2 separate regions of the Homo sapiens genome follow, and region 1 is linked to region 2. Evidence: fine-mapped expression QTL. A gene starts in region 2. The other region holds a variant in brackets. All regions are shown on one strand. Distances are from middle to middle. Region 1 overlaps ABI1 (abl interactor 1). Region 2 holds the start of ABI1 (abl interactor 1).

What was found. PIP is the estimated chance that this variant, and not a neighbour inherited with it, causes the effect.
Region 1: its variant is fine-mapped to the expression of ABI1 in whole blood (TOPMed, PIP 0.90).

What each region holds. Positions count from the first base shown.
Region 1 is chr10:26,803,442-26,807,841 of GRCh38, reverse strand. The region is part of intron 2 of ABI1 (abl interactor 1); the gene reads left to right. Among named protein-coding and RNA genes, the nearest start is that of ABI1, 55 kb to the left of the region's middle. The variant C/AC (reference allele first, on the strand shown) is at 2,041.
Region 2 is chr10:26,858,585-26,862,984 of GRCh38, reverse strand. ABI1 (abl interactor 1) reads left to right here and starts at 2,027. Exons shown (of 11, transcript NM_001012750.3): 1 at 2,027-2,238. The coding sequence starts at 2,122. RefSeq lists an enhancer at 1,785-1,984 and silencers at 2,305-2,394, 2,505-2,654.

The DNA.
Region 1 (4,400 bases), 55 kb after region 2:
GGGATTACAAACGTGAGCCACCATGCCCGGCTGGGTTTGCTATTTTTGTAGCTAGTTTTGCACCATGCTAGACAGCTAAAACTCAGTTAGGAAACTGCATATAGCTTGTGACCCAGAGGGCAGAGTTCATGGTGACCACAACAGCTGGAAAGTGAGTGGAAAGAGAGACCTGAAGGGAAAGAGCCCCAAATTTTGTGTTAAAACTTTGCCTGTATTACAGGCTGAGCTGTGTGTGGAGCGAACTGCATGCAACTCAGCCAAGGATAAAAGAACTGAACAAAGATTTCAGCTGCTGCCCATCTTGGAGGAGAAAGTTTGCGATTTAAGTCAAGCTAAGTTTAGTATCAACTTTTTTTTTTGAGGCCGGGTCTCACTCTTGTCGCCCAAGCTGGAATGCAGTGGTGTGATTATGGTTCACTGCAGCCTTGTCTTCCTAGGCTCAGGTGAAGCCTCCTCCTCCCACCTCAGCCTCCCAAGTAGCTGGGACTACAGGCATGCACCACCACACCTGGCTAATTTTTCGTATTTTTTGTAGAGATGGGGTTTCACCATGTTGCCCAGACCTGTGTCGAATTCCCGGGCTCAAGCGATCCACCACCTTCTGCCTCCAAAAGTGCTGGGATTACAGGCGTGAGCCACTGTGCCTGGCCTACTGTAAACATTTTTTGTTTGTTTTTTCTTTTCTACTTCTTTATCTTTTTAATTTTTCTGCCCTTGAAAATCAAAACATTTTTTAAAGGACTATAGCAGAATCTAGAGTTTCTGTAAGGTATCATTTACCACATATAAAATGTAATCTAAAATTACCATACTTAGGAAGAACCATGAAAACATGGCCAATATTCAAGAAAAAAAGATAATCAATTGAGATAAAACTTGCAATTACATGCATGTTGGACAAATGATGATTTCTTATGTGTGACAACTTGTGGATTCAGGGACTTAAAACTTTTTGTAGTCAAAGGGAATTTTAGGATACTGATTCTAGTCTAATTCATTGTTTTTCTCATGTATCTAAGGTCTAACTGGCACTTACCAGTTTGTTAGCCTCTTGCACTGATATTACTCATTTTCTTTCCTTCTTGGTGTGCTGCTTCCCCTGTAAGGTGTTAACTTGTTTGGTGTATATGATTCAAGGACCAGGAGATAGAAACCATTCTAACTATCTTAAATATAAATTTACTCTCCACAAATAAGTTCCAGAACTCAAAAACTGATCTGCTGGGGAAGCTATAACCACTGATGGTGCCACAGGAATTACTGAGTTTAAGAACGTTATGCAAGGGTTTCAGGCCATGGCTTAGAAAGCTGCTGCCATTGTTGCTGCCTCAACTGCCTCTTGACACCCACAAACCTGGTGACTGGGCATTGAACTTGGAGTCCAGCTGTTGTTTCCAGTGCGGTTGCCTGTAAACATCCAAACAGTTGGAGAATGGACACTGGAGCATCAATTTGGAAAAAAACCTTATTTCTTGACTTACTTTGCCAATAGGAAATGTAAAGTGGTAATAAGAGATCTCCACTTCACTTTCAGTTTCCAAATCCCATGAAAGTATTTTATTGATAGATCAGAAATTGTATCCAGAAGCCTGGTGGTGAGAACAACTGGACAATGTTGATTTTAGCTTTTTAGCTTCTGCAGTGCAAGCAGATATTCTTGGGGCAAGGATCAGGAGGGTAGAATGAAGATTGAATGAGCTGGTTTTACAGCATGGCTTGAAGGAATAACAGTTGAATTGGGTCTTAAAGGAAGCCTGTTCATTTATCATGTTGATACGGAGTATAGATGCATTCCAGTCTGAGGTAATGGCATTAGAGAAAGACATGCATGGTTTTTTCAGGGTGATTAGAATGTAGGGTATGATTTCTGCAATGAGGAAAGTACCTGGAGATCAATTTGCAAAAACCTAAAGTTCTAAATTATAGCTTATTTTCCTTTGATTTGGTTTCATTGCTGAGGCTAATTGTGTTGTGCTAGGGGAGTAGCTGGTATCCTTTGGCTTCTTCTCTGCTTCTTGTATCTGCTGGGTGCTGGAATTA[C/AC]ACAGCTCCTGAGTCAGAGCAATATGCTTAGCAGAAATAAGCATCAGTCTTCCTGAACCATCAGATGGCAGACTGACGTGATATGCCCTGAATCAAAGGAAAGGCAGTATCTTTTGGAAATTGGAGACTCTGTTCTTTGCTTTTAGGGTAAACAGCTGGCAATCCTGCTTCTGTTCAATATGCTTTTTGGAGAAATGAATCACCTAAGCCTGCATTCTGCCTCAAATAATCTGTATTTGTGGGGTTAAGGAAGCAAATCTTCAGTCCCTCCCTGTTGATCACAAAGTGTGGGTGAAACCATTTCTTTGTTGTGTCCTAAAATATGACAACGGAGTGTTCTCATTAACCTTAGAATAAAAACTACCTTTTTTTTTTTTTTTTAAATAAAAAGTGACTTTGGAACTGTCCTTGAGCTTGAGTATAAACAGCTAGTTTGGGAGTCTCCTTCCAAATTTCATGTTCTTTTGGTTGTCTGTAAGCCGTTCACTCACCAGGCTACTGCTCAGACCTCTGAAGTCTGAGTCTTCACAGTAGCCTAATCTTGCTTTAAAGTCTGGAAATGGATTTTTACTTCCTATAGTTCAGATACCATAGCATGGCATAAAAGTCTCATTGATGTGGTCTCTTCAACTCTCCTATTTCTGCCATGCCCAGCTTCTTGAAGTGTTGCAGACACAGCTGTAAATTTGTGCGTCTTTGTTTTTCCAATTATGTGTTTGTCTTACCTGGAATTCAGTTTGTCCTGTTTCTGTTCTGCCTAATAGGAACACCGTCTGAGGTCTTCACTAATCAGCTCAGGATAGAGTTACTGGCCCTCTCTTTGTTTTATACCTTCTAACTTATTCCTTCTTTTACATTGATTTTTGGGTATATGTTTGTGTTCCTTACCTTACTCTTTAAAGATAAGGACCATGTTTTATTCATCTCTGTATCTTTATTACATAGTAACTGGCATTTACATAGTTTGATAAGGATATGGAAAGAATAAGACAGTGTGGTGTATTTTGGAGTCATAAAGACCTGTGTTTGAAGCCATGTTCTGTCACTGTGTGATTTTTCCTACCTACCTTTTTGAGTTTAGTTATCTCATATGCAGAATTTGGACAATAGTGCTAACCTTGGAGATTAAATAAGGAATTGCTTATAAAGCATTTACCTTTACATAGTGTTGGCATTATTAGTCATCATATCTGTCATCCCTTTTTTCTCTTATATTCAATCTCTCTTGTGTTCCCACTTCGAATAAACATTTAACATGTGTATGTCTTCCCATCTTAAGTTTTCCTAACCATGCCTTTTGATATATTGCCTTTCTCTGTTGTCAGTTTACAACCAAGTTCTTGAATCTGCTGTTTCCTGGCAGCTTCTTCCTTCAAACATATGTATGCCTCAATCCATTGTGATTTTTTTTTTTTTTTTTAAATAGAGCCTTGCTCTGTCACCCAGGCTGGAGTGCAGTGGTGCGATCTAAGCTCACTGCAACCTCTGTCTCCCGGGTTCAAGAGATTCTTGTGCCTCAGCCTCCCAAGTAGCTGGGACTACAGACATGCACCACGACGACTGGCTAATTTTTGTAGTTTTAGTAAAGACAGGGTTTTGCCATGTTGGCCAAGCTGGTCTCAAAGTCCTGACCCCAGGTGATCTGCTTGCCTCAGCCTCCCAAAGTGCTGGGATTACAGACATGAGCCACCACACCCAGCCGATCTATTGTATTTGACTTTGTTTCCTTCCACTCCCTGGACATTGCTTTTGCAGAGTCATCAATTATATTTGTTCTTAATATAATAGAATTTTTTTTTTTTATTTCATCCTTTGTACTACATAGCAGAATTTTTTTTTACTTCATCCTTTGTACTACATACCAGGTTTGTAATTATGTTTATTTGTATGCGTACTTATTTAATGGCTATTCTTTCTTTTGAGGTTAAGTTTAATGATGACAGGAACCTTATCTGTTTTGTATATCACTGTATCCCTAGTATCTTCAATAGGGCCTGGCAAGGAGTTGATCCTCAAGTCTCTTAAATTTTCAGTGTGTCACTTTAGAAAATCTGTAGTTCTTTGCAAATAGGGCACGATGTCAATTTTATTTTTAGAAAGATTCTCCATTTTGAAGCAGAATGGATACACTCTAGTGTAAAATTTCAATTATCAATTATTTGGTTCAGAATGTTAAACAGATGACTTAATGTGATCACTAAACATTTTTGCCTGCCTGTTTCCTGAAAAAGTCAAAATTTGGGAAATTGAAAAGGATAACGTAGATTAGAATTTGTGTAATAATTTAGTATTACTGGTGTTTGCATTGTTCTCTACATTTCCACTCTGCCTTGCAATTCTTGTGAAATGACCAGGCAAGA
Region 2 (4,400 bases):
TTAGGGATTACAATTCAACATGAGATTTGGCAGGGATGCAGATCCAAACCATATCAATCAGTAACCTAGGAAACTTGACGGCATTTTCAGTGCCCTTAGCTAAACTCCTTAACCTATCTAAGCTTAAATTTCCTTATTTGATAAGGAAGGAAAATAATATTTATATTATCTGTCTCTCAGAGTTGTGAGAAGAAATCTGACAGTACTTTTTATTTGTATTTATCATCATCATCATTATTATTCATTCATTGCTCAACTGCATGGACAGTACGTTGAAAATAGTAAATTAGTATCACCTCCCTAATCACTTCCCCAATGTTGTTGAAATGTGTCAATATTTGAATATATACAAACTGAGTGATTTCTACAGTTAAACCTCAAGTAGAGACCAAGATCAATAATACATTAAATTTTAATAACTTGGATTAAGTCGTGTTTGGGTTAACGATAAATATCAAAAGATAACTATTACACCTATTCCAGATAATAAATGTATTACTTTCCATAATATCTGGAATAGGTATAATAGTTATCTTTTGATAGATTCCTTGATGGAGAATCTGGTGGCAAGGGGAAGTTAACGTTTTTAGTAGGAAACTGAGTTTTTCCTTTCAGAGGTCGAAGAGGGAAACTGGTTCCCTGGGGCCCTGAATAAGGCCCCAGTAAAGGCAATATTCAATAAATACCTGGTGCTGGCAATTTTTAATTTGGTTGAGTGATGTTTTTACTCCTAGTTATTTTGATTCTAAATGACTTTATGGAGATACATGAACATATGTCCAAAGTCTTTGGACAACACTTTTCATAGCTGATTATATCCGAAGCATTTAATGTTCCTGTTGAAGTGAAGAGCTTGAAATATAGGGCCTTTTGAGACTATTCCAAAGCAGGTGATAAAAACAAAACAAAACAAAAATCCAGGAGCAAAAAACGAAGGATCAGGGTGGGTGGCTCATGATTGTAATCCTAGCAGTTTGGGAGGTTGAGGCAGAAGGATTGCTTGAGGCCAGGGGTTCGAGACGAGCGAGGGCAACATAATTTGATCCCTGTCGCTATAAAAAATTAAAAAGCTCAGCCAGGTGTAGTGACCGACGCTTGTAGTCCCAGTTACTCTGGAGGCTGAGGCAGGAGGATCGCTTGACTTTAGGAGGTCTAGGCTGCAGAGACCCATGATTGTGCCCCTGTACTCCAGGCTGGGTAACAGTGAGATCCTGTCTCAAACAAGCAAACAACTCCCACCCCTAAAAAAACGTGCACATGACCTTAAAAGTGTAGGAAGATTACATGATAAGGAGAGTCAGAGAAAAGAGAAATTAGGACAGGAAAGCACTACAAGCTATGTATGTTTATTTTATAATTGAGTCTTTAAGGGTACGGAGTATTCGTACTCAACTTGTACCCCCAGTGTCTAGTACGCTGCTTGGTAAACAGCTGGCAATCAAGAAATGTTTGCTAAATTTTAAATGAATTGATGGGGGCGGAACTTCAGAAAGTAAAGCCTGACTCGCTTTATTTCTAAGAAGGCAGAGGAAGTAAAAATCTAGTTTTCCGTACTCTGTCCCCTTTTTAATCCTTCTCTGAATGGGTGTCCTTGATTCACTGACATTTCCTAATTAACCAAGTTCTGCCAAGTTTCACATGAAACTTGGGGAACCGATTTCATTCCCCCAGTATCACCCTGTGGCGCCACCTTCCGGAGCTGTGAGGAAACTCCGGACTTCCCCCCAACACCGCCCCCTCCCTCCACCCTCGGTCTCCGCTTTCTGCGCTCTGCCGCGTTGGTTTTCGGAGGTGTCTGGGCGCATGCGCTTTGGACGGGCCGCCTAGCCTAGGAGAGACTACAATTCCCAGAAGACAGTGCGAAAGAAAAAAAAAATCCCGCGGTCCGTGGGGGTGGGAGAAATAAACGCTCGCGAGAGAACGAGGTTCAGGCGGCTGCACGAAGGGGGTGGAGGGGGGCTGGAGAGAGTGAGGAGGAAGGGGAGGAGGTGCCGTCCCACAATACCAGGCGGGAGGGCGGGTAGGCGGTTTGTATCCGGGCTGTGAGGTGCTCGGAGCCTCGGCGGACCTTGCTGCCTCTGTCTCTTTAACGCGAGAGGAAGCGATGCAGAGGGGTGGAAAATGGCAGAGCTGCAGATGTTACTAGAGGAGGAGATCCCGTCTGGCAAGAGGGCGCTGATCGAGAGTTACCAGAACCTGACTCGGGTGGCAGACTACTGTGAAAACAACTACATACAGGTGAGGCGCTCTGGCGGCCGGCGGGCGCTGGCCGGGTCGAGGACCCGCCGGAGTGACCAGCCCACTGGGCGGGGTGGGGAACTGCCCTGACCTCAGCGGCTGCCACCAACCCGAGCCCCTACCGCAGCCCCAACCCCAGCCCCAACCGGGGACAGAGCGAGTGGCCGGGCTGAGGGAGTCGGGCTGCGATACAGGAAGTGGCTGTGGTGGTGGAAACCGATAGAAGGGGAGAGAGAAAATGGGCGAGGGAGCCGGGAGCCCGCCGCTGCCGCAGCCCGGCGCCCCCCTCGCGTCCGCTTCCCCCAGGGCCCGGCCACCGGGGTCGCGCGCCCCCCAGGTAGCCTCCAGTCCGCAGGGCTGGAGTCCCGGAATACCCCCGAGCTGCCGCCGCGCCGCCTCTCTGCGCCGGGAGAGGAGGTCCAGGACGGGAGAGGGGAGAGGAGAGGGCAGGGACGAGGCTGAAGCCGCAGAAGGGAGAGGACCAGCGGGGTGTGTGTTGTGTGTCGGCGGAGGGTGGGGTGGGGGCGATTATGTCAGTTTCAGCCCCCAGAGGGTGTGTCTTTTATTTATTTATTTATTTAAAAAAAATTTGTCATGAGTCACATTACACCGACCTCCCGGAGGAGAGGAGGAAGCGGGTGTGGGGAGTGAGGGAGGGCGTTTGAGAGAAGTTCATCTTAAAATTCCTTTAATTGAAGGTTTGTAAATCTGTCTGCTTGTCCATTTTCAAGTCGGGTTTTTTTTATTTTTTTCCCCCTCTCATCGTTTTCACTTCCGCCCCACCATAATGTATTCTAAGAGGTTGTTAGGGCTGCTATCATTAATTATCAAACACGAATTGTTCTTAACTCCTTGGAAAAACGGCTTACCCTCCCTTCTCCCAAAAGTTCTTGAGCTGTAGGCTTCATAAGTAACTTAAAATAGACTGGTGTCATCGCCGGTTGCTTATTTTCTGAGGTTTCTCTCTTAACAAGCTAAGTAAATGTATAGTATGTGAATCCAAATACAGAAACGAACAGAGGTAGCCTCTGAACTACAACGTAAAAATATCTGTTATTGTAAATTAGAAAACTCTTGGGACTTTGTGACAGATGCTTGTTTGTTCGTTTCTCTTTGGATGATTGGAAGTGAATTGTGTGTGGTAGTTTGTTTTGAAGATCTTTAACTGTGTAAACCAACAGTTTGCGCTAGAAACAAAGTAGCACAGTCCTTTGTATAAATATAAAGGCACCAGGAATGCTCTTGCTTTTGGTAAGGCAAGGCCAAAACGTGCTTTGAAAGGTTAGGGTTATTGCAATTCAGAACTAAATTGTTTATAGAAATGTCTCCCATGTGATTATAATTTTTAAGAACCGATGTTTCTGTGTTGGCAAATGCTTCCCCTCTTTATTTTTAGAGGGAGATGCTGTTTTCAGAATGTTTTGAATATTTCTCAGTTTTCATGTTAGTAACATTGTATCTTCAGTAGCACTACTCGGAATTTATCTTCACAATTTTTTTTTCAAGCTTTCACTTTAGGAATTCTCCTGATAAGTGAACTTGTTGAATGCCTGCCACATCTACTGTATCACTTTGTGCAAACTTTATATTTAGCCCTTCGAAAAACTTTTAAAAATCTAGTAGGGATGTGGATATGGTTTGCAAATATAAAAGTGATCTCGTAGTTTATCGATATTAAAAATAGGCAACTTTTATTCAACTTAACATGAAAAGCCTTGAAATTGAGGAGAACCTTAATTTGCTGAAAGTTTTAAAGATTTTTGAAAGCCAAAAGGAGAGCACAGTAAGTTTAATTTCTCGCTTTCCAGAAAAGTTATGTGTTCTCTGTAGAAGTCAGTAGATAAGTGCTTCATACAGGGGTGGCTCCTTTTTGTTTTGCATGTTGGGAAATCTGACAAGTATATAGTGTGGTAACTATGTGTTGGCAACTGTTAGTAACTGTAAACGTGTTTTAACCTGTCTGTGTACTATTACTTTTTCAGGTAGTTGTATGTTGTAATGCTTTTTTTTTACCCCTCTCTGACCCCTTTCCTTTACTCCTCTTGCTACAATCATGTAACTTTGAAGCACTTTAAAACTTCATTGCTAATATCTCTAATTAAGTCATGTTATTTTTCATACAGTCTCTCACTTTATAAAATGTTAGTGCCATGGTGCACGAA